7 linked regions of the Homo sapiens genome follow. The protein of the gene in region 1 purifies or fractionates together with the protein of each later gene. This does not show direct contact. Each region holds a gene or a part of one and is shown in the gene's direction. Other genes may lie near its edges.

Region 1 (3,597 bases):
CAGCTCTCACTTCTCATTTCCAAGAGCCCCTGAGGATGGAGCCCCTCACCCACACCTGCGGGGTCCCTGAGCCCACTCAGGACAGGGGAGGAGGCTGCTCAGGCCTCGGTGGGATCTGACGGTGATGAGGCTGGAGTCCACGCCAGACCTGCTCCTTTAGAGAGAAGCGCCCCAGCTGTGGGTACCACTCACACCGCCCCTCCTGTGCTCACCTGGAGGCCTCTGTGCTCAGGGCACCCCTGAGACAAAGGAGGGGCCGCGCACCTGCTCCCTGGAGGAAGTTAGGAACTTATTCACAGCACGTCTTGTCTGCTGTTCATTGCTGCTCTGCATTTTCTGGGCATACTTGTTTATTTTTTCTCTCTTCTTCTGAATCTTTTAAAACAATATTTGAATATTTAAATTTGTCTCTTTAAGATATATGGATTTATGATTTAAAAACAAGTAATTCCACTCCCATTGTCCTGGGGGCATAATTCAATATTTACATTTGCTGTATAAAATTAGTTGTTAATAGCAAGTATTTCTATTATTAATATATAAAATTGAAGTTTATTAATGAAGTTAATAAGTGTTTTCAAGTTCCGTTCATAAGAATGTGTACATTTAGTCTAATTTAAAAAATTCTTCAACTACTTTATTCTTAAGTGAAGTATTTGATTCATGTATATTTCTTTTGTTTGTTTGTTTGTTTTTGTTTTTGAGATGGAGTCTTGCTCTGTCGCCCAGCCTGGAGTGCAGTGGCGCGATCTCGGCTCACTGCAAGCTCCGCCTCCTGGGTTCACGCCATTGTCCTGCCTCAGCCTCCCGAGTAGCTGGGACTACAGGCACCCACCACCATGCCGGGCTAATTTTTTTGTATTTTTAGTAGAGATGGGGTTTCACTGTGTTAGCCAGGATGGTCTCGATCTCCTGACCTCGTGATCCACCCACCTAGGCCTCCCAAAGTGCTGGGATTACAGGCGTGAGCCACCATGCCCAGCCTGATTCATTTATATTTCTAAGTAAGATATACACATGAGAAAGCTTTTAGTTTGAGTATATTCATTTAATTTCATTTTAGCTTGCTATAACATTTTTCCCTTTCAATTATCTTTCAACTGATCTCCCCAAATTTACTGATAAAATTTATATTAACTATAAGAAAATTGAAATTTTATTTTTTATTTCTAAACCGCATATCAATTTTTGTCACTTCAAGTATTAATATGCATGTAACTGCATCTTAAATAAATATCTAAAGTTTTACATATATACATATTTATGTATGGTTATATAAGTTACATCTGAATATAAGTGTAGGTATATCTGCATATATTTTTTATACGTATATCTACATGCTTAATGTATTTGACATGGAGGGCTTTTACATGTTTGTTATTGGTCTTCTCACCTAGACTCACACTTTATAAAAGCAGAAATTTTTGTTTGTTTGTTTGAGATGGAGTCTCTTGCCCTGTTGCCCAAGCTGGAGTGCAATGGCATGACCTGGGCTCACTGCAACCTCTGCCTCCCAGGTTCAAGTGATTCTCCTGTCTCAGCCTCCCAAGTAGCTGGGATTACAGGCAGGTGCCACCATGCCCGGCTCATTTTTTTATTTTTAGTAGAGACGGGGTTTCACCATGTTGGCCAGGCTGGTCTCGAACTCCTAACCTCGTGATCTGCCCGCCTTGGCCTCCCAAAGTGCTGGGATTACAGGCATGAGCCACCACGCCTGGCCCTAAAAGCAGAAATTGTTTTATGAGCCTCTGTAACACCATATATATATATATATATATATATATATATATATATATATATATATATATATATTTATATATACATATATATACACACACACACACACACACACATTTATATACATACGTATATATATATGACTGACTATATGAATAGTTAGCTGACTAGAGACTTATTGTATGATGAAACACCAGGTGAGGTGGTTGAGGTGGCGTCAAGGGGAGGCAGCTGTTTGTGATTCTGACTTTCAGGAGCCCCTGAGGACCAACCCGTCATCCATGGAGCCTGGGTCCTCAGCTGGTGGATCCGTGAAACTCTCATCTCTGGGGGAATTGGCTTATGTGCTCCTGTGTCCCAGGCTGCACAGAGAGCACAAAGGGCTCAGTGACTTCTGGGGGCCACTTTCCTTGCAGATCCTGAGCTTTCACGGTGCAGGAAAGCTCTTTCCCAAATGACTCAGGAGCAAAGTTTAAATTCAAAGAACAAAGGAAAGCTGAAATAATTCAGTGAGGAGACTGGAGGGAACCCTGCTCCAGCAGAGGGAGGGTTTATGGAGGAACTCCATAAAAGTCATGTTGAGAGGCACAGGGAACTAGGAGAATGCAGAGCTCAGGGGAGAGGCTGGGCTCAGATTGCTTCAAGAACTTCTCCTTCCCCTTCCCCTGTTTTGATTTTCAGGAGCAGCTGATAACCTCAGTCCGTCACAAAACAAGTCTGACTCTGGGACTGGTGAGTGAGGAGATGCTCTCAGTTATGGAACTGGCACAGAGGGTCAGGTCCTGTCAAGATGATATGGGTGCCCTGGGGAGACATCCAGGGGTCCTGGGTGATACTGATCTGCCCTGACCTCTGTGACCTCTTTGTCCACCATCCCCAGCCTCACACCTTCAGGATTACGCAGTAGAGAATCTCATCCGCATGGGCATGGCCGGCTTGATCCTGGTGGTCCTTGGGATTCTGATATTTCAGGATTGGCACAGCCAGAGAAGCCCCCAAGCTGCAGCTGGAAGGTGAACAGAAGAGAGAACAATGCACCATTGAATGCTGGAGCCTTGGAAGCGAATCTGATGGTCCTAGGAGGTTCGGGAAGACCATCTGAGGCCTATGCCATCTGGACTGTCTGCTGGCAATTTCTTTTTTTCTTTCTTTTCTTTTCTTTCTTTTTTTTTTTTTTTTTTTTTTTTGAGATGGAGTCTTGCTCTGTCACCAGGCTGGAATGCAGTGGCGCAATCTGGGCTCACTGCAACCTCCGCCTCTCGGGTTCAAGTGATTCTCCTGCCTCAGCCTCTGGCAATTTCTAGAGGGAGGAATGGGTGTTTGAGTGCAGAGACACTGGTCTGGGGTGATCCATGGAGGACCATTAAAATGTGACACCTTTCCTTTCTATTAATGTTGACTTCCCTTGGTTGGATTCCCTTCTCTTCCCAGCCCGAGACATGAGGCTACATCCCACATGGCAGGCAGCGTTGGGTCCACATCTCTGCACACCTGCATGCTCTGGTCCTTGGCGTGTCACACAGTCCACTTCAATTCTCATTATCACACTCCCTGTGTGCTTTACTGAGCCTCCATCTCTTCAGTTCAGAGTTCCACACCTGAACCAGTAACTAAATCCATGGGAGAAGATCAGATGCCCTCCAGGAAAAGATAAATCCAAAATGGCGTCCTAACCTCTTGTCTGTAGCCTTCAAGCCCCATTCGCTCTTTTTTTTTTTTTGAGACGGAGTCTCGCTTTGTCACCCAGGCTGGAGTGTAGTGGCACTATGTCGGCTCACTGCAACCTCCACCTCCCGAGTTCAAGCAATTCTTCTTCCTCAGCCTCCCAAGTAGCTGGGACTACAGGCGCATGCCACCATG
Region 2 (3,500 bases), on another chromosome or scaffold:
CCACCTCCACTGGAAGACCTGGCCAGGGTCAGGCACTTTGCTGGGCATGTGTTGGCTGCTGGCAGGATTGTGTGTCGTAGGTGAAGTTGGTGGGGTCTCATGGGGCAGGCTGACCCTCCCTCTGTTTTGGGTACAGCTCCCTGGAGGCCATCATGGGCCTGGAGAGCAGCAGTGAGCTCTTCACCATCTCTGTGAATGGCGTCCTGTACCTGCAGGTGAGTGCGGCAGGCTTGGGCATCGAGGGGCACCGCCTGGGCATGGCCACGGGTGGCTGGGTGCAGAAGGGTGCTGTTAGATGCTCAGGATCACTGGGTCGGGTGCAGCACCCTCAGACTCCAGGCCTGGGAGAGGGTCCAGGACATGCCAAGTTCTCACTTTGGTCTGGGCGCAGCCAGGCTTCAAGTCCTGATCTCCTTCCTCCAAACACAGCCCTTCCCCGAGGGCACCTGCCCGCTTGAGCAGCTGCTCCGCTCTGCATTCCCAATATTCAGACTCCCTGAGCACCTCATCCTGAGGCCCAGTACTCCTGGCCACCACAAGCCCGCTGAAGGGACTGGTGCAGGGAGGGAATGGAGGCCAGCACTCTGCCCAGGCTGACGCCCTGAGTCCCCTGTGACTATGGGAAGCCAGATACGTTATTTTCCTACCCAAAACCCTAAGTGACCATCTCTGGCACTGTGGGAATTTTGGCAAGTGGTAGAGAAATGGACATAAAGGTGGAATTTACTAACAAAGAAAACAATTGAGTGCAGGTGTGTGGAATAACAGCTGCTATTGAATTCTCCCAGAGCTTTGGAGAAGGTAGAGCTACTCCCCGAGTTAGCCCAAGTTCACACAGCAGAGCCAGAAATGGAGGCCAGGCTGTCTGGCCCAGAGTCTGTGCTTGCTGAAAGGCATTTAGAGGTCCCTTCTGGGTGCCACACAGCATGCTTGGTGAACTCAGATGGTCTCTGCCCCACCTGGATCTTAAGATGCAGATCCTGAGGCAGGTCTGGGTGGATCCCAGATTCTGCATTTCTGGGAGTTCCCAGGGAATGTGACACTGCTGGTGCATGACCACGCTGCTGGTGCATGACCACGTTTGGAGCAGCCAGGCTAGAGTGCTGGTTTCACGGAAGGCTCTGCCAAATGACTGCCTGTGGGGAAGGGCCACCCTCCCACCTGACTTGGAGCCCTTGCAGGCTCTGAGAAGCCCTGCAGCTGAGAAACCTGTTGGACTCTTGAATCCCACTCTGGCCTTGAGCAGGGGCCCACTCCCACACACGCGAACTGTAGGGCGCTGCAGGGAAAGCAGAAGAGGTGCTGGGTGGGGCCCAACCCGTGCGGGCCCTTGCTCTGTGACCTTGGCGGCCACATTCTTCTCTGGGCCTGAGCCCTTCCCAAAAGCGGGGCTGAGTGGGCAGGAGGGAGTGTGGCTGGCTGGCCCTTGGGTCACCTCTGCAGGCTGTTGGGGTGGCCCAGTGCCTCAAAGGCACCCTCCTTGCAGATGGGGCAGTGGACCTCCGTGTTCTTGGACAACGCCAGCGGCTGCTCCCTCACAGTGCGCAGTGGCTCCCACTTCAGTGCTGTCCTCCTGGGCGTGTGAGCGGCCACCACAGGCCCTTCCTCTCAGGGGCAAATGGAGCACAGATCTAGACAATGTGTGGACAGTGTCAGAGTAGCAGTGGCCACATGGAGGAGGAGGCCCACCCGGAACTCTGCCCACACTGGCCACTGCAGTTCAGCCCACAGAGCCACTGCAGGCAGGCCTACGGACGTGACACGCACGCTGGTGGTCCCGGAGCCAGGGTTGATTCAGGACACCATCTTGGGCTCTTATCCAGGAAAGAAAGAGTCGGCGTGCCTGGGGGCACCTGCTAGTCTCCAGCTGCAGGCCGACTCTTTCCTGGCCTGCTCAGCACCTGCCCAGATGGCCTCTGCGTCTTTCCTGTGCCCAGCCCCACCTTTTCCACCTCTCTTCATGTTCTCATGGAGTGCAAAGTGCACCAGCCAGGGCCCCTACCTGGGAGAGGGTCAGCTGACGCAGGGCTGAGGGGGCTGCCACAGGGACGTACGCTGTGTGTTCTTACTGCTTAGAAGGGACGGGGTCACTCACCACTCCCCTGGTCTCCATCTGGGCTCCTTGGTCTTCCCTGCCCCTCCCCTAACCGTGTTCTACCTGCCAGTGGAGCTGAGCACTGCCTAGCCTGGGCCAGAGGGGCACTGGACAAGGGCCTTTGGGGGACAGTAAGTCTGGGCCCAGCTTCTAGTTCTAATGTGTGCAAGATTAACTCACAAATTCACCTCAGAAGGCCTTTCCAAATGGGAGCTCCACTCTTCCCCTCCTCTGCAAATCTTCACAGCCAAGGCCCCTTCCACCCTCTCCAGAGGTGGATGAGATCCCTTTTCCCCTCCCCTCTGAGGTGCTGACTCACTGGTAGGAGCCACCCACCAGAGGAAAGATCTAGAACGTCTTTACAGATTGGAGACAGCCGGGCCTGCTGACCCATCATCCGAATAGCTGAAGCAGAGTCTTCCACCAGGGGTGCCAGGGCCTGGCTGGGTCCAGCGGCTCTGGGATGAGCCTCCCAAGCATCTTTCCCACTTGGGTGGCCATGCGGCGCTGACATTGGACAGGTGGTGGACGAGAGATGGTCCCGAGAAAGGGTGGTCTTGGGAGGGCTGGTCCCAAGCCTGCTGTGCTCCTGTGGCAGTGATGGGGCCTGGGGATGGGGACGGCAGCTCTCATGAGGACACACAGGCTGTGAGCCCGCAGCCTCCTCAAATGTAGCCTCCCACATTTTCCCCAAAGTACAGGACTGTCCCAGAGTAGGTAGTGAAGAGGACAAGGCCCTCGGCAGCGACCTCCAGGGCCTCCTACCTGCTGAGGAAGAGTTAACCCACTGCCTCCCCACACAACAGGCTACGAAGAACCTGGTGCCTCAGGACCTCCTGGGAGCCAAGCTGGTCTGGCAAGGGCGCTCAGGCCTGGGAGAGAAGGGAGCAATGGCCAGTCACCTTCACCTTCTAACTAACTAGCCTCCGGATGAGGTGGCTGCCACCAGGCCCGAATGATCCCCAGGAGCCCAGCTTCCAAACCCCAACATCGAATCAAACATCTCCATCCCCAAGTGCAGTAACACACAAAAACCAAACACTCTGCCCTGGGAAAGGCCTGGTGCGATTCTCAGTAGGACTCACACCCACCCTACCTAGAAGTACTGGGCTGGCCTGGGTACTGCATCCGTGTGTTTTGATAAGGGGGTGATGTGGCCACGCCCTTATCTAGATTTCACTTTGTATCCACTGGGCACAGATATTCTAGAGAACTTATCTTTCACTCTTGTAAAAGCCACATATCCACATCTCTTTCATTTTTCTCAGTGTGTTATGCAGCAATTTATTAAAGTATTTATTGTCTAATAAATACTGCCAAGTGGAATATATTTATATAACTGACTTCGTGGGGTGGTTCAAGTACTTACTTAAGAACTATGTGACACAACAGTTACAAAACAAAA
Region 3 (3,500 bases), on another chromosome or scaffold:
GTTCCTTCCACCTTATGCAAGTACTAATATGCATTGTCACTATAGATTAAATTTCCTTTTCTAGAATTTCATAAAATGAAATAGTATTGTCAGTACTCCTGTGTCTAGCACTAAATGTGTTTCTAAGATGAATTCAAATTTTTGTATGTATCAATATTCCTGTTTCTTGGGGAAGAGGTATTACATTGTGTTAATATATTACAATTTATCCATTCATCTGTTGATGGGCATTTGGATTGTATCCAGGTTTTGACTCTGAACAGAGCCTCTGTGAACATTCTTATAAAGAGTACTGGGTAGTATGCTTTCATTTTCATGTCCTTAAGGGAAATTATGGTTCTGTGATTTCATTTGTTGTAAGCCTTAGATATTTGTTATTTGATTTCCAAATATTTGGGTATTTTTATGCTATCATTTTGTTATCAATTTGTAGTTTAATTTTGTTATGGTCAAAGAATGTACTTTGTATGACTTTAGTCCTTTTAAATTTATCAGTGTTTGTTTTATAGGACAGAATGTAGTCCATTTTGTTGAATTTTCCATGCACATGAAAAAAAATGTGTATAATGCCATGGGTGGGTGGATTGTTGTGTAATGCCAGTCAGGTCAAGTTTCATGATAGTGTCATTCAGGTATTCCATATCAGTACTTTTTTTTCTTGTGTTATCAAGTCATTGAGGGGGCATGTTGAAGTTTCCAGTAGATTTGTCTGTGTTTCCTTTCGGCTGTATCGATGTTTCCTTTATATATTTTGAAGTTCTATTTTTGTGTTCATGCACATTTAGAATTATGTTTCCTTGGGGGACTTAACCGTTTTATTATTATGTACTGTCTCTCTTTATCCCTGTTAGTATTCCTTGTTATGAAAACTGCTAACGGTAGTGAATAGATAAAAGTGTAGTTGGATTACAATCTTAATCTGCCATTTTTCTAGATGATTGGTTATGTTTCTTCTGTTTTCTCTTTCTGTCTTTTGTGTATCAATCAAATGGTTTTTATGGTTTTATTTTTTTGATTTAAAACTTTGTTTTGAGACAGGGTCTCACTCTGTCTCTCAGGATGGAGTACGGTGGTGCCATCACAGCTCACTGCATCCTCGACCTCTGGGGCTCAAGTGAACCTCCCACCTCAGGCCATTCACTGCGCCCATAGGAGCTGGGACCATTTCTGGCTAATTTTTGTATTATTTTTTGTAGAGATAGGGTTTCACAGTGTTGCCCAGGCTGGTCCCAAACTTCCGGACTCAAGCCATCTGCCCACCTCGGCCTCCCAAAATGCTGGAATTATAGGTGTGAGCTGCTGCACCCAAGCTATTTTATTTTCATTTTTCTCTTAAAAATATTTGTAGTGGTGGCTCTGTGTTAAATTTTTTCATTTTTTTTCTCTCTGTACTTCAGTTTGGGTACTTTCAGCATATTTTCAAATTTACTGATCTTTCATTCTTACCTGATTAATTCCATCCACTTTTTAATTTTACATATTTTTTTGTCTCTAGACTTTTATCTGGGCCCTTTTTAATATATTTCTTCATCATTATGTGGATGATTTCCAGCATGCTTATAATAGCTTATATAAAGTCCTTGACTGCTAATTTCATCATCTTTGTTATTTCTGCATTCTCAGTTGACTGAATTTTCTGCTAGTTGTGTATGGTAGTTTTCTTCTTCATATCATGTCTTCATATCATTTTATTGAATGCTTAGTACTTTGAATTTTATATTTTTGAGCATCAGGTGTTGTATTCCTGTTAAGGAGTATTGGACTTTATTTTTTCAGAAGTGGTTACATTCGTCTGTGGCTTATGTTGTTAGGCAGTATGTAGGTATGATTGAGCTGCATTGCTAGGGTCTAAACTCCCCTGTATATCCACTGAATCCTCTGGATTTTCAATAGATGCTTCACTGTGGCCTCATCTCTGACGACTGTGTGAGCGTTGGATCTCTTTAGCATATCGCCCTCGGTCACTTTTTGACCAGTTTCATGGAGTTTTTCACCTGTGCATGCGTGGGTTTTTCAGAAGGTCTTCACTGATACTTGGAAAGTGCCTCTAGGCAGAAAGTTGAGGCAAACTTCTGGCTTATCTAATTCATTTTCCTTCTTGGATATTATCATTCAGTACTGCCTGTGGCCTCATGTCTTTAAAAAGTTAACCTCAGTGTGGAAAATCTGTTTTTCCAGTTTTCTAATTGTTTACAACGGGAGTGTAAGTCTGGTCTGTTTTTCCACCCTGGCTGGAAGTGGAAGTCATGGCCTACCATTTTATTTTCAAACCTTTTTTTTTTTCCTACCCAGAATTAGCCTGAAATGCCTCATCTACGATTACTAATAAGAGAGCCTGTTAATTTTGTTTGAAAAATTTAAAGGAACTAGTTTACAGTTTTTCAACCGTGTTATTAATAAAAATTAAATTTCCCTACTTTATCATAGTCTCCCTTTTTATCGTAGTCTTTTGTCTATAACAGTTAAGGGGCAGGGGGAAGCTAGATGTATTATTAAGTAATTTTTACTTTTCTCATTTTTTTAGACCTAAGGATTGTCTTCGGTCTATTATGAGAAGAGTGAACCACAAAGATCCTCACGTTGCTATGCAGGCTTTGACTGTGAGTGGTTTCATTTTAATCTGTACCACGAAATTACCTGCCACAATTGAGCCCCTTTAACTTCTGATTTTGTGCTTTTAGCTTCTAGGAGCATGTGTATCAAACTGTGGCAAAATTTTTCATTTAGAAGTATGTTCAAGAGATTTTGCTAGTGAAGTAAGCAACGTATTAAATAAGGTAAGGAGCATTATTTCCAGAAATTAATTAAGGCAGTCTTCTTTCTTCACATATTTTATTGTTTAAATCTTCACAGAGGACTATTCTGTGCTTTTTAAGAAATCCTTTCTAGGCTGTGTCTATCCAGTATATAAATAAATATTATGTTTTGTTGAAGAGACTGCGGATTCATGTAACTTTGAGTTAGTTTTTTCAAGCCATATTAGAGTGTTTTTAACCTGTTCTTTTCCATCATACTTTCATCTGATAAGAAAACAGGTATTTCTATATCTAATTAAATAATATCAGTCTATTTTACATACTGTTTTTGTAGGCACAAGGTATTTTCCTAATGGAAAACCTTTCAGAAACACTGCAAAAAGTCTATGGCACCGTTGAGTTTTTATCTTTATCAATAAGGCTGCTTCCTGGCCATCACAGGATTTTAATACTATACTGCTATTCTTACTGGCTGAACCCACAGCTGGAGTTGCCTCAAAAGTGGTGGCGGGGGAGTTTCCACAAGGGACTGCCCCAAACTGTTCCAGATAGGGCCAGATGAGAGTCCAAAAAAAGAGGCACTAAATGCCAGGGTGATCAGTCTAAAGGATTTATTAGGGGAACTTACACAGGAGGGCTGCAGTTTATAGGAGGGTTTAAGGAATTTGGCTCAGGGTTGGGGCTGGTTTCTGTGTGTTTAGCAACATACTTGATCTTTTAGTGTTTTGGGCCACAACCTGAACA
Region 4 (3,013 bases), on another chromosome or scaffold:
TAGGGAGCATTCCACGCCTGCAGAGAGCAAGTGGCCCAGGGACCTTCGCCCAGTGATTATATGAGGCTTTTTCCAGGGACATTTCTGCCTGTCCGCAGAGTTGAGGGCCCTGCACTTGATTGTGGAGCTGGAGGGTGTGCAGTGTAGGCCAAGTGGGGCAGCTCATTGTCCCCCAACACAACAGGAGCTCCCGGATCAGGGCAAGTCAGGAACATGATGGAAACCAGGTATGGCCAGGACCTCAGGATACCTGGGTTCATATCCTGATTCCATTACTCGCTTGTTTGCTGACTTTGGACAAGGAGTAGACTCTATTTTTTTTTTTTAATTAAATAAGGGGATGGGACTAGATTGTGTCTAAGGATCTATAAACCTGACCACATATATTAGGATTCTTTATATTGTAAGAGACAGAGACCAAATTAAAATTAGCATAAGCAAACAAAGGGAATTAATTGGCCCATGTAACAAAATTATCTGGTTTCTGGCATATCTAGATTCCTCTCTCTCTCTGAGCTTTCAGCTTCTTTCCCTGTGTTGGTCTCCTTTTCTCCTGCTAAAGATGGGCTTTCTCTCCTTGGTGGGAAACACAGTCCATGGCCACCTCCAATTAATTTCATAGCATGTTGGCCCAAGAAACAAGGCTCCACTCTCAGAAATCCCAAGGGAGATTCTAAGTGGCCCAATTTGGGTCATGTGCCACCTCGGTCCAATCATAGGCTGGGCCAGTGGCACATAATGACCTCAATATCAGACCAATTGGTGGTTCCACCAGAATTATACAATAGAGTGGAAAAGGAATTATTCCCCAAGAGAAGGAGATCACTAAAGAGACTAGAAAAGAAAAATGTCCACTCTAGTATGATTATCAGATTTTGGCCTAGTATAAAAGGACCTTATTTCTTCCTCTGTACTGATTATAAACTTGAGCGGTCCAAGCCCCACTCTGATTCTGTAACCTCACTTTCTCCCAGCACTACAGGGGCCAAATATCTATTTGACTCTGGTAGTTCCTTCAGATTTGGGCTCTGACACCATTTGTAGCCTTAAAACAAGTCCCATAATTCCTTTGAAACTTTATTTCCTGCTCTGACCATTGGGGAATTTGTGCTAATTGGTATGATTTTAAAGAACTGCTCATTTTAAAGAATGCTTGATGCTCGAAATAACAAAACACAGGAAACAGCCTAAAAGTTCGCTAGGGGACAGGTTGAAAAGTTATAATGCATTCATATAATGGAATACTATGCTGATGCAAAAAAGAATCAGGACACCCATATATGCCTAACATAGAAAGATCTCCAAGATAGATGTTTGGGGGAAGAGCAAAGTGTAGAGCAGGGGTGTCCAGTCCTTTGGCTTCCTTGGGCCACAATGGAAGAAGAATTCTCTTGGGCCACACATAAAATATACTAACACTAATGATAGCTGATGAGCTTTAAAAAAAATTTCAAAAAAAATCTCAAAATGTTTTATGAAAGTTTACGAATTTATATTAGGCCACATTCAAAGCTGTCATGGGCCGTGGGTTGGACAAGCTTGGTGTAATGTGTTTGAAATTTTAACCATTTGCGTTTTAAAAGGTCATGGGGTGAAATATATTAGCTTGAATATGCCTGGTGAATATGCATTTTTAAGTCCCTGTAAAGATACACAAGAAACTGGCCAGGTGCAGTGGCTCACGCTTGTAATTCCGGCACTTTGGGAAGCCAAGACAGGCAGATTGCTCCAGTCCAGGAGTTCAAGACCAGCCTAGGCAATATAGTGAGACCCTGCCTCTACAAAAAATAAAAAAATTAGCCAGGCATGGTGGCATGTGCCTGTAGTCCCAGCTACTAGGGAGGCTGAAGCAGGAAGATTGTTTGAGCCCAGGAGGTGGAGTTTGCAGTAAGCCGATATCGCGCCACTGCACTCCAACTTCGGCGCTAGAGCGAGACCATGACTTAAAAAAAAAAAAAAAAAAAGATACACAAGAAACTAACAACAGTTCTTTTGGGAACAAGGGTGGAAACTGGGGAGATGGACAGGTATAGGAGGGAGACTTCCCTGAATGCCTTTTTGTACCTTTGAATCTTTAAATCATGTTAGATATTATTGATTTAAAAAAAATTGTTTTTCAAAAAAAGGAAAAATTGCTTAAACAAAGCACATACAAAGTCTCCTTCAGATGCAGAGCTGTATAAAAATACTCTCAGAGAATTACTGTAATCAACGTCAAATACACAAAAACTGATGATGCTGTTTTCTTACTTAGGCACTAAAAGAAGAAATCAAAGAGATGCATGGATTGCGGATATTTACCTCTGTCCCCAAACGCTGACCACGCCCTGGCTGCATAGATGCTGCTGCTTAAGACCTTGGATGAACTTCACTGACATCATTCTTCCCTAAGCAGTCACCAAAAAATTTATATATTTTGCTCATATACATTTCCATATTATAATTATAGAAGATGTATAATCTATTTAGATGTTAATTAAAGGAAACAAACAACTGAAGCTTTTGAAGGGTCATTAGTAATGTTTCAGGTTCCTTTATTTTGGCCAAAGGGGTCTTGTCTTTAGACAGTTCTGTCCTGCTACAGAGAGAGAATGCAGTGCCAGCTTTTTGTCTTTTGAAGAGGTTTTCCTGTTTCTTCCCCTCCACGAAACTGCTCAGGCCTCTTCATCTTACTGAAACAAAGAAAAGATCCTTTACTATTGCTGTTCTTTTCGTTTATCATTCTTTTCTTCCCCCTCTAAACTTCTTACATGAATGATCTTGGACCCTCAATTTCTTATGCTCTGAAATGGACTCTGAAAATTTGGGGGTGCCAGGATCCGGGTTCTTTTCCTGTGTTTGAAGATCCTCCACCCTTTGATTCTTGGTAGGAGGCAGAGCCCACCTCCCACGACAGAAGCTGAAAAGGCTTACTTTCCCTGCCTCCCTCACAGCTGAGGCACAGGCAGATATTCCAGACTCAGCCAATCAGATGGACCTGCCCTGAACTTGGGAGCAAGTCACACCGAGGAGC
Region 5 (3,500 bases), on another chromosome or scaffold:
TTATCCCAGAGGAGGGGAGAGCCCAGCCCCTGGTAATTGCAGGCCTGCTTTGAACTGATAAACGGTGAGTGATTCATGTTTTCTTTGGAGTTCACATGTGCTCAGCTCCCAGCCCCGGCCCCACTGCCACTGTGAGGAGCCTGTTTTCTGGCTCCCGGGTCTTCCTTGAGCTCTGAGGCGGGGGCGGGAGTGGGGACTCCTCCCCTGCTGTTCTTGGGGCGCTGTCCGGCAAAGGCAGCTGGCAGCCTGCTAGGAGCACCCTGCAGTTCCTGCTCTGGGATTCCAGCCAAAGCTCTTTGCTTCTGAGAGCCTCGGTTTCCCCACCTGAGCAGTGGGTGTGTGCTGTGCACACACTGGGCAGGGAGTGTGTGGGGAGTGAAACAGGAGTGAAGAAGCATGGGGGGCTGCCGCACCCAGACCTGGCTGGCCCTCCGCATACCCTTCATTCATTCGCTCACTCACGGGGATTTATTGAGTCTTCCTGGGTCCCTGGCTTGGCTTGGGGATGCAGTGGCAACCACCCAGAGCCAGGCCCTGCTCTCACAGGGCAGCCATTCTGGCCGGGAGAATGGGAGCAATAAGTAATAGAGACCCTTCACGAGTCCTGTGCTGCAGATGAGAACAGGGTGACTGAGCAGGGCGGGGAGTGGAGACAGGGGCACAGAGGCCTGGGGGAGGGGCAGGCAGCCCCACACTGCATGTGGGCACCAGGCACAGAGGCTGATGGGACTGTGCCCAGCTCCCTGGTAGACTTGGAGAAGGCATCCATCTTCAGGCCTCAGCTTCCCCATCTGTAAAATGGGGCCAGACCATACAAGGGGTGTCTGGGATGGTCTGTGCAAACTGGCTGGCTGAGGCTTGAACTCAAGACTCAGGACTCAGCCTTGCTGTAGCCGGCTCCAGCCAGGAGTGGGTGAGAGGCCCCAGCACATCAGGCACATCCAGGGCAGCAGGCCCTACTGACAACCAAGGGGGTGGCACTGCTGACTATGCCTTGTGGGCAGGTGTGCCCTTTCCTCTTTCATCCATGAGAAAAGAGCTTTCATGCCCCTTTTGCAAATGGGGAAACTGAGGCTAGGAAAAGGGAGTGTCCCCATCAGAGTCATCTGCCTACAGAGTAACAGGGTCTAGATTTAGCCCAGTGCTTGGCTGCCAGTTGCTAGGCAGGGTGTGGTGAGACTTTTCCAGAGGCAGTGGAGGCCAGGACAGGATATGGGGACTCCCGCCAGGATCTGGGCAGCGCTGACCTCGTGTGCAGGTCAGAAGAGTGGCCTTAGCCTCTGCATAGGGACCTGGCTGTAGGTGGTTGTGGGTGGAGGGAGCCGAGTACCCTGGCAATCCAGGAAGGAGGGGTGGGCATTTTGTGGAGTTTGGGGTGGAGTCAATGGACCTTGGTAGTGAGTGTGACCAGGAAGTGAGGGCCCGATGTGGAGCAAGGCAGGAGGGGGCCACACAGGTCTGGGTGGGTATGGGGTGCTGAGGCTGGGAAGGGGTCACTGTGGAGGGGTGGAGTGCAGGGAGCACCTGCCAGCCTTCCCTGTGGAGGAATTCCTCTTTCCTTGGAGTTGGGTGTGAGGCTGGGAGCAGGACTGGTGGCTTGGATAGAGTGCTGAGAGTCAGGGCTGGTGGGCCAGGGAGCCTGGGAAGGGGCCGTGTGGCGGGGCACCCGTCGGCTGGGGTGGGGATGTGGGTGGGACACATTGCCTGGCTTCTGGACTGCAGGTCTCAAGGTTTATCCAGCATGGGGCTTGGGGTCCCACCGAGAGCAGCCCAGGCTGCCACCTATCCACAGTGAGAACTGCTGCCTGTGTGGCCTGGGCCTCCATGTCCTCCGTGGTGCCTCTGCTGTGGGCTGTCAGGGCGTGTTCGGGGGAGAGGCAGGGCTGTGGAGGTGGGAGTGAGCACTAAAGCCCATCTATGTCAAGCTTCTGTAGGGGACGGTGGTGGAGTATGTCCCCACCAGCCTCAGGCAGGGAGCTGGTGCCCACCCTGGGAGTACAGAGCTGTGGGGAGGGTCCTGCTCCCCAGTGCATAGGGAGGCTCTGGGTGAAGGCTGCTCTCCAGGTTGGTGTCAGATGTTGGTGTCAGCTGGGGTCCCATTCCACACCTCAGGCCCTTGTCACCTGCCTTCCTGTTCCTGGCCTCCGCCAGTGATGGCAGGGCACAGGTGCCAACGGAGTGACCTCTTGCCAGGTGTCCTGGGGATACCTGGTGCACCCCACAGCTTATAGGGCCTCAGGCCAGGGAGGTGCCCAGTTTGCCCCTGGCTCCTCCTGGTGGGTCAGGTTCTGCCTCCTGGAGGTGCAGTGGGCACGCCCAGCACTGGAAGGGCTCACACTGGGAGATCATAATATCATGGGATGGGCCATGCCTGCATTCACATGCCCTCTTCTGCCCCTTCCCCAGGGCTGAAGCTCCTGGCACCATGATGCTCACCCCAGCAGGACCAGAGCACCGAGGCCCAAGGCCCCAGCCTGCCATGCCGCTGCCACCGCGGAGCCTGCAGGTGCTCCTGCTGCTGCTGCTGTTGCTGCTGCTGCTGCCGGGCATGTGGGCTGAGGCAGGCTTGCCCAGGGCAGGCGGGGGTTCACAGCCCCCCTTCCGCACCTTCTCGGCCAGCGACTGGGGCCTCACCCACCTAGTGGTGCATGAGCAGACAGGCGAGGTGTATGTGGGCGCAGTGAACCGCATCTATAAGCTGTCGGGGAACCTGACACTGCTGCGGGCCCACGTCACGGGCCCTGTGGAGGACAACGAGAAGTGCTACCCGCCGCCCAGCGTGCAGTCCTGCCCCCACGGCCTGGGCAGTACTGACAACGTCAACAAGCTGCTGCTGCTGGACTATGCCGCTAACCGCCTGCTGGCCTGTGGCAGCGCCTCCCAGGGCATCTGCCAGTTCCTGCGTCTGGACGATCTCTTCAAACTGGGTGAGCCACACCACCGTAAGGAGCACTACCTGTCCAGCGTGCAGGAGGCAGGCAGCATGGCGGGCGTGCTCATTGCCGGGCCACCGGGCCAGGGCCAGGCCAAGCTCTTCGTGGGCACACCCATCGATGGCAAGTCCGAGTACTTCCCCACACTGTCCAGCCGTCGGCTCATGGCCAACGAGGAGGATGCCGACATGTTCGGCTTCGTGTACCAGGATGAGTTTGTGTCATCACAGCTCAAGATCCCTTCGGACACGCTGTCCAAGTTCCCGGCCTTTGACATCTACTATGTGTACAGCTTCCGCAGCGAGCAGTTTGTCTACTACCTCACGCTGCAGCTAGACACACAGCTGACCTCGCCTGATGCCGCCGGCGAGCACTTCTTCACGTCCAAGATCGTGCGGCTCTGTGTGGACGACCCCAAATTCTACTCGTACGTTGAGTTCCCCATTGGCTGCGAGCAGGCGGGTGTGGAGTACCGCCTGGTGCAGGATGCCTACCTGAGCCGGCCCGGCCGTGCCCTGGCCCACCAGCTGGGCCTGGCTGAGGACGAGGACGTGCTGTTCACTGTGT
Region 6 (3,500 bases), on another chromosome or scaffold:
CACTGAGTGAAAGGTCACTTACTGCTCTCATTGAGTCCCTGAAAACAACAGGAAGCATCAAGAGAAAGATTGAACTCTGGGCACTGATCCCAGGGATACACAAACAAATGGCTGGGCAGATTTTGCAGAAATTCCTGTAATTGGTAAAATGCTGAGTAATAGCCTTTGATGTAACTTTTCAGTGGGTTAATTTATTCATTACTTAGCCTAAAACACTTTTAATTTTAATTGCCTCAATTTTTTCCCCTAAATGGTTATGTTTTGCAAGTTCGCCAGCCAGCCTGGGGAAAGAAGGGTAAGCCTACTATAGAGTGTGTGTGGGTTAGTTAGGAAACTCACTTAGATGTGAAATGTGTCAGGAAAGAGATCTCACAGAGTGTAGGAATAATTATTTTTACAGATGTTTCATTTTGGACCTTTTAGTAATACCATTTTAAGAGAGATTCTGCAGATGAGTAACAGACTCTTAATTTTAGTGTCAAATGGTACTCTATAAAAAATGGAGTTCAGGCTGGGCACGGTGGCTCACAGCTGTAATCTCAGCACTTTGGGAGGCTGAGGCGGGTGGATCACTTGAGGTCGGGAGTTCGAAACCAGCCTGGACAACACGGTGAAACCCTGCCTCTACTAAAAATATGAAAAAATTTCAGGGCATGGTGGCAGGTGCCTGTGAGGAGGCAGTGAGCTGAGATCGTGCCACTGCACTCCAGCCTGGGTGACGGAGTGAGACTCTGTCTCAAAAAAAAACAAAAAAAAAAAAACAAAAAATGTAGTTCACATGCCTTTATTCATTTTCACCAAACTCTATACAAACAGTACGGAGCTGAAGTAGCCCATGGAAATGATAATCAATTCCAAGACATTGGTTTGATCATGAAAAAAGAAAAATCAAATTACTTGGCATTCTTCTTCCTCTTCCTTTCCCCTTCTCTTTTTGAACAATTCAGTCCAAGGTCATTCAGTTCAGCTTAGGCATCCATGCTGGGTAGTGGGGAGGCCCAGGACCATGGCAGAGCATTCAGAAACCAGCAGGGTAAGGAAAGCATCCACAGTATAGCAAGGGTGGGGACCTGGAGAGACAGGAGACAGCACTGGTGGTGACCTATAGCAAGTTGTCAGAGGTTGAGTGGAGTGAGGAAGGAGGCATTCCAGATTGACAGAGGCTAAGAAAACAAGGCAACTAAATACTATTCTGCATTAAATGCTTATGTTATAAAGGACATGATTGGGAATTGGTGAAACTTGAACAAGATTGGGGATTAAATATTGGAACTTTATCCATGATGACTGTGATGATCATATTATGGTTATATAGGAGAACATCTTTGTTGTAGGAAATGTACATTGAAGTATTCAGGGGTGATACAGCATATTAGCATAGTTCTTCCATGTTTTCTGTAAATTGGTTTCAAAATCAAATGGTTACTTTAAAAAACCATTCAAAATTGTGTTTAAAGGAAACATGGACCAATAGAAAAACTCAGAATAAGTAAGTGTAGTTAAATTGATGCATTTTACCTAAGAGATGTAGATTAAAAATAAAGAGGCTGAAAAAAAAACAATTATGAGAAATAACAGTTCATTTATATATGTCTCTAAATCAAATTAGCCTGGATTTCTGAATGACAAAGATGTAATTGGCACTGGGATTGTTCTCCATTCTTTTTGGGAAGTTTATTGCCTAGGACATCTGTATCAGTCTTCGAAGTACTTTTTAAAGCTTGAATATCTGAATGAACCCGTCAGACTGACTGTTATCTGGTCTTCTGTAATGGGCTTCCGCACCTTTGACGAGACTCTTAGCTGAAAGGTTGCTTGTCCCTAGGCCCGGTTGCTCCACGTTGTAAGAGCATTTGCAAACGCTTGGTTGTACATGACTGTGCACATGTCAAGTCTGCTCTGTCACTGTAGAAAAAATATTCCTTTTCCACTTGACATATAAGGCATGGAATTGTTTGTTTTAAATGTATTTTGTCAAGGAATTCATATATCTGCTTGATGTGTTGTGGTACTGTATAAAAGACAAGTGTGAAATTCATTGCTTACTATGATAGCCTTAACAGGACTACAGTAAATCTAGTTTTCTAAAAAATGGAGTATATGCTTAGCTTGGTTAAAATTTTATAATGAAATGACTACTCTGGTAATAAAAATTAAAAAATATCATAAAGTGGGGGCTAAAAAATGATACTGCATGTGTTCCAGTTAATGAACATTTTTGTTGTAATAATACGAAGAGTGATTGAAATCTAAAAACATTTGAGATTTTAAAATAGTTTTAACCTTATAACTACAGGATTGTGATTTAAGTAGCATGCCTACTTAATTAGGCAGCAATTAAAATTATTGCTAAGAATTAAATTACCAAGAAGACGTGGTCTAGTATGTATTGCCTGGGCTGTGGTTTGAATTACTTTTGATTAAGTATAATCACATTTTTTGAGAGTATAAAAACAGAGGATATTACTTGCTTCTAATTCACAGATGTGTTTATGAACCATTGGCAATTAAAGCATTTGCAATTGAGGCCCTAAGAAAATTTTAGGTTAAAATAACATGTTGAGTTATGCCTTATAACTCAGTATATGCTTATACTTTATATGCTTTACGGAGTTTTGAATATATAATATATATGTATAATAGTATATTTTTCCAGGAAATATATAACTTGTAGTTCCTTAACTTATTTTGTAACTAAATCCCGTGGAAAAAAGTTTATTGAATGTCATTGCTTCTCAGGCAAATGTAGAGTTAGGAAAATGATATATATACATATTGGGAATCTTTTAGAAGGCTTGGACTTGGTAGCTCAAATCTTCTGCAACCTTGAGCTTCAACTTTCTGGCCGGTTCAAGAGATCTCTTCACTGTCCTTTTCATGTAAAGTCAATGTTTATGGAACACTAGACCAAAATGGAAGGATTCCTTTGGAAACTGAACAAACAGTTGAATTAGTCTTTGACTTGATGGAGTGATTTGATCTAAAATATTACCTATCAGTTTTAGATATCTGTTCAATCAGAGCTGCCTCCATATATGCAAATGATAATTTGTCTTGGATTTTTAGATATCTTAGCCCTCAGACAAGCTAATAGAGTTTAAATTGAACCTGGTGTTTTAGGGACAGTTGAATTGTTGGGTTGCCCAGGAAAACAGTCACATTTTTCTATAAGTATGTGTTTATTTGGCTGGAATGTGGGTGAGGAAGAAGTTATATGTGAATTAAAAGAAACATTGTCTCAATGTCACATGTTAAATTAAATTAAATTACAGGCAGAACTAAGCGAGTTTACGATTGCTGCCGCTGGGAGCAGAGATTATTTTCAGCTTACATTTATAACAGAAGGAGGGATTTAAAATATAGTATTATGCCTACCCTGATACAGCTAACCTCCTCCACCCGCCCCTCCACACACATACAGCTACATGCTTACCCTCGAACTATGAAAGAAGGGTGTCTCTCAGACATCCTATATTTAACCCAGCTTTGGACAGGTCCCT
Region 7 (3,500 bases), on another chromosome or scaffold:
ACGGTTCCAGCCTGGAGCATGGAGCTGTGTGGGCACCCTGCTTCCTGACGCTGACCGTCCTTCTGCAGGGGGTCCACTGGACGGGGCCTGAGCTACAACTTCACCCACCTGGACGGGTACCTGGACCTTCTCAGGGAGAACCAGCTCCTCCCAGGTGAGCTGTGGGCTCTGCCCTCCCAGCCCGCCTGCACCCCCTTGCCCTGCCCACCCTCTCCCTCACCCAGCCCCTCTGAGTCCTTGGATGTCCATTCAGGGCTGGCCTTGGTGCCGGAGCACAGGCCTGGCAGAGCATGGGTGTGGTGTGTGGTGGGCGGTGGGGCAGCCCTCCTGTGTTCCAGGGTTTGAGCTGATGGGCAGCGCCTCGGGCCACTTCACTGACTTTGAGGACAAGCAGCAGGTGTTTGAGTGGAAGGACTTGGTCTCCAGCCTGGCCAGGAGATACATCGGTGGGCGAGCGCAGGCCCTGGGGCCCTGGCCGGGGCGGGGGTACTCCTGGGCAGGTTGCACCCCTATCACGCAGGCTGCTGCCTGGTCAGGAGATACATTGGTGGGCAGGCGCAGGCCCTTGTGGGGGGATGGGGGTGACAAGGGATAGGTTGGTGGTCGGCGCAGGCCCTGGGGCCCCAGGCTGGGGGGTACTCCTGGGCTTGGTGGGTGGGCGAAGGCCCTGGGCCCCTGGGGTGGGGGGTACTCCTGGGCAGGCTGCACCCCTATCACCCAGGCCGCACCCCTATCACCCAGGCCGCCGCCCAGGTCTTGGACCCCCTTGAGCCAGCGCTTCCTGATGTGGGGCGGGAGGCTGGCCTGCATGGAGATGGGGTTCATCTTGAGTCAGACGCCCTTCATCACCTTGCACCCTCCCTCCGTGGGAGTCACTGAGGCGAGATTCACCTGTGCTGGGGGGACAGCAAGGCTCCTCTGCAGGTAGGTACGGACTGGCGCATGTTTCCAAGTGGAACTTCGAGACGTGGAATGAGCCAGACCACCACGACTTTGACAACGTCTCCATGACCATGCAAGGTGTGCACCGCTTCCTGGGGTCCTGCCCGGCTGAAAGGGGGCAGAGGAAGGCAGGAGCAGAGGCTAAGCCGCTCATCCCCAGGGCAGGTGTAGACGCAGTGCTCCCCCGGCCCAGGCTTCCTGAACTACTACGATGCCTGCTCGGAGGGTCTGCGCGCCGCCAGCCCCGCCCTGCGGCTGGGAGGCCCCGGCGACTCCTTCCACACCCCACCGCGATCCCCGCTGAGCTGGGGCCTCCTGCGCCACTGCCACGACGGTACCAACTTCTTCACTGGGGAGGCGGGCGTGCGGCTGGACTACATCTCCCTCCACAGGAAGGTGCGCCCTGCCCCTCCGTCCGCCCCGGTGTTCTGCGCCCTCAGCCGCTGTGCCCCGGGCCGCGCTGACCCTGGTGGTGCTGAGGCGGCCCCGCCCGCAGGGTGCGCGCAGCTCCATCTCCATCCTGGAGCAGGAGAAGGTCGTCGCGCAGCAGATCCGGCAGCTCTTCCCCAAGTTCGCGGACACCCCCATTTACAACGACGAGGCGGACCCGCTGGTGGGCTGGTCCCTGCCACAGCCGTGGAGGGCGGACGTGACCTACGCGGCCATGGTGGTGAAGGTGGGCCGGCCCAACGCCCTGCGCGCCCCCCGGCCACCTTCCTCCCGAGACGGGACAGGCGAGCGGTGGCCGCGCCACCCGGTCCCAGCTGCCCTGGACACCCGCAGGTCATCGCGCAGCATCAGAACCTGCTACTGGCCAACACCACCTCCGCCTTCCCCTACGCGCTCCTGAGCAACGACAATGCCTTCCTGAGCTACCACCCGCACCCCTTCGCGCAGCGCACGCTCACCGCGCGCTTCCAGGTCAACAACACCCGCCCGCCGCACGTGCAGCTGTTGCGCAAGCCGGTGCTCACGGCCATGGGGCTGCTGGCGCTGCTGGGTGAGCCGGGGCCGCTGGGGTGGGCCGGCCAGGGCCCTCCAGGCTGGGGAGCGGCTCCTGCGAAGGCCCCGCTGCGGGGAGCGCACTTCCTCCAGCCGCGCGCTTCCCGGGGTCGGCCTCCGCGTGGCGGGGCCTGGGGACTCCTTCACCAAGGGGAGGGGGAGCGAGTGGTGGGAGGCCCGGCCCTGGGTCGGGGGGCGGCTGGGCAACGACCCCACGCGGCGACGGCCCCCCCCCGCCCCGCAGATGAGGAGCAGCTCTGGGCCGAAGTGTCGCAGGCCGGGACCGTCCTGGACAGCAACCACACGGTGGGCGTCCTGGCCAGCGCCCACCGCCCCCAGGGCCCGGCCGACGCCTGGCGCGCCGCGGTGCTGATCTACGCGAGCGACGACACCCGCGCCCACCCCAACCGCAGCGTCGCGGTGACCCTGCGGCTGCGCGGGGTGCCCCCCGGCCCGGGTAAGCCGGGGTTCCAGGGAGGTCTCTGGCCCCGCTGGGGCTCTGGAGGGGGCGGCCCGGGGAGCCGAGGCCTGAGTGTCAGGCCCCGCAGGCCTGGTCTACGTCACGCGCTACCTGGACAACGGGCTCTGCAGCCCCGACGGCGAGTGGCGGCGCCTGGGCCGGCCCGTCTTCCCCACGGCAGAGCAGTTCCGGCGCATGCGCGCGGCTGAGGTAGGTGGGCCGCGGAGGGGCGAGGGGCCGGGCCGGGCCGGGGTCCCGGGGGGGTGGGGTCCGGGGCGGGGGCTCCGAGGCGGTGTGGGTGGGAGGTGGAGCGGTGGGCCGGGGGCGTTCGCCCTGAGGTCGGGCCGAGCGTCCCCAGCTCCCCTGGAGAACCCTGAGGACCGGCCACTGCGCCCAGGACCCGGTGGCCGCGGCGCCCCGCCCCTTACCCGCCGGCGGCCGCCTGACCCTGCGCCCCGCGCTGCGGCTGCCGTCGCTTTTGCTGGTGCACGTGTGTGCGCGCCCCGAGAAGCCGCCCGGGCAGGCAAGTGGCAGTCCCCTAACCCGCGCCGCGGCCCGGACTCCCCTTCCCCGACGCCATCACAGCCCTTCCCTCCCCCAGGTCACGCGGCTCCGCGCCCTGCCCCTGACCCAAGGGCAGCTGGTTCTGGTCTGGTCGGATGAACACGTGGGCTCCAAGTGCGTGAGTGGGGCCGCCCCTCCCTCTGCCTGGTCCTAGGCAGGTCCCTGGGTCCCGACCCCTTCACCCATGCGGTCACTCGGGCCACTTGCCGTGGCCCATCGGCTCCCTCCCTCGCCGCCCTGCGTCCCTGCCCTTCACCCCACACACTGTGGGCCACGCGCCAGGCCCTGCCAGTGGGGTGTGGGTTCTCCTAGGGGACATGAGATGGACATTCGGGCTCCAGCCCTCTCCTGCCTGGGCAGGAAGAGTGCCCAGGGGCTGGGGAGGTGCCGCCGAGGGGCTTGAGGGAATGAGGCTGTGGGTCCACGCGGCCGTGCCCTGCCTGCTCCCACCTTTGAGGACTGTCTTGACCCCAGCCTTGTTCTTGGCCTGACCTCCCCAGGTGCCTGTGGACATACGAGATCCAGTTCTCTC

What was found.
Region 2: the proteins of LILRA5 (region 1) and ERFE purify together in Homo sapiens (affinity purification with mass spectrometry; one large-scale study listed by BioGRID and IntAct). This does not show direct contact.
Region 3: the proteins of LILRA5 (region 1) and STAM purify together in Homo sapiens (affinity purification with mass spectrometry; one large-scale study listed by BioGRID and IntAct). This does not show direct contact.
Region 4: the proteins of LILRA5 (region 1) and BOLA3 purify together in Homo sapiens (affinity purification with mass spectrometry; one large-scale study listed by BioGRID and IntAct). This does not show direct contact.
Region 5: the proteins of LILRA5 (region 1) and PLXNA1 purify together in Homo sapiens (affinity purification with mass spectrometry; one large-scale study listed by BioGRID and IntAct). This does not show direct contact.
Region 6: the proteins of LILRA5 (region 1) and CNTNAP3B purify together in Homo sapiens (affinity purification with mass spectrometry; one large-scale study listed by BioGRID and IntAct). This does not show direct contact.
Region 7: the proteins of LILRA5 (region 1) and IDUA purify together in Homo sapiens (affinity purification with mass spectrometry; one large-scale study listed by BioGRID and IntAct). This does not show direct contact.

Annotation. Positions count from the first base shown.
Region 1 is NC_000019.10:54,306,570-54,310,166, reverse strand, and holds the end of LILRA5 (leukocyte immunoglobulin-like receptor subfamily A member 5 isoform 1 precursor), read left to right. Parts: intron 1-2,418; coding exon 2,419-2,469; intron 2,470-2,617; coding exon 2,618-2,754; 3' UTR 2,755-3,097; downstream 3,098-3,597. UniProt on the Homo sapiens protein: May play a role in triggering innate immune responses. Does not seem to play a role for any class I MHC antigen recognition.
Region 2 is NC_000002.12:238,165,470-238,168,969, forward strand, and holds the end of ERFE (erythroferrone precursor), read left to right. Parts: intron 1-136; coding exon 137-215; intron 216-1,486; coding exon 1,487-1,585; 3' UTR 1,586-3,421; downstream 3,422-3,500. UniProt on the Homo sapiens protein: Iron-regulatory hormone that acts as an erythroid regulator after hemorrhage: produced by erythroblasts following blood loss and mediates suppression of hepcidin (HAMP) expression in the liver, thereby promoting increased iron absorption and mobilization from stores.
Region 3 is NC_000010.11:17,682,151-17,685,650, forward strand, and holds part of STAM (signal transducing adapter molecule 1), read left to right. Parts: intron 1-2,524; coding exon 2,525-2,600; intron 2,601-2,681; coding exon 2,682-2,777; intron 2,778-3,500. UniProt on the Homo sapiens protein: Involved in intracellular signal transduction mediated by cytokines and growth factors. Upon IL-2 and GM-CSL stimulation, it plays a role in signaling leading to DNA synthesis and MYC induction. May also play a role in T-cell development.
Region 4 is NC_000002.12:74,134,900-74,137,912, reverse strand, and holds the end of BOLA3 (bolA-like protein 3), read left to right. Parts: intron 1-2,254; coding exon 2,255-2,320; coding exon of another isoform or gene 2,321-2,391; 3' UTR 2,392-2,513; downstream 2,514-3,013. UniProt on the Homo sapiens protein: Acts as a mitochondrial iron-sulfur (Fe-S) cluster assembly factor that facilitates (Fe-S) cluster insertion into a subset of mitochondrial proteins. Probably acts together with NFU1.
Region 5 is NC_000003.12:126,986,115-126,989,614, forward strand, and holds part of PLXNA1 (plexin-A1 precursor), read left to right. Parts: intron 1-2,406; 5' UTR 2,407-2,479; coding exon 2,480-3,500. UniProt on the Homo sapiens protein: Coreceptor for SEMA3A, SEMA3C, SEMA3F and SEMA6D. Necessary for signaling by class 3 semaphorins and subsequent remodeling of the cytoskeleton. Plays a role in axon guidance, invasive growth and cell migration.
Region 6 is NC_000009.12:42,122,927-42,126,426, reverse strand, and holds part of CNTNAP3B (contactin-associated protein-like 3B precursor), read left to right. Parts: intron 1-3,500.
Region 7 is NC_000004.12:1,000,544-1,004,043, forward strand, and holds part of IDUA (alpha-L-iduronidase isoform a precursor), read left to right. Parts: intron 1-68; coding exon 69-154; intron 155-338; coding exon 339-446; intron 447-924; coding exon 925-1,020; intron 1,021-1,135; coding exon 1,136-1,338; intron 1,339-1,438; coding exon 1,439-1,618; intron 1,619-1,725; coding exon 1,726-1,942; intron 1,943-2,188; coding exon 2,189-2,401; intron 2,402-2,492; coding exon 2,493-2,614; coding exon of another isoform or gene 2,615-2,801; coding exon 2,802-2,927; intron 2,928-3,005; coding exon 3,006-3,082; exon of another isoform or gene 3,083-3,086; intron 3,087-3,468; coding exon 3,469-3,500.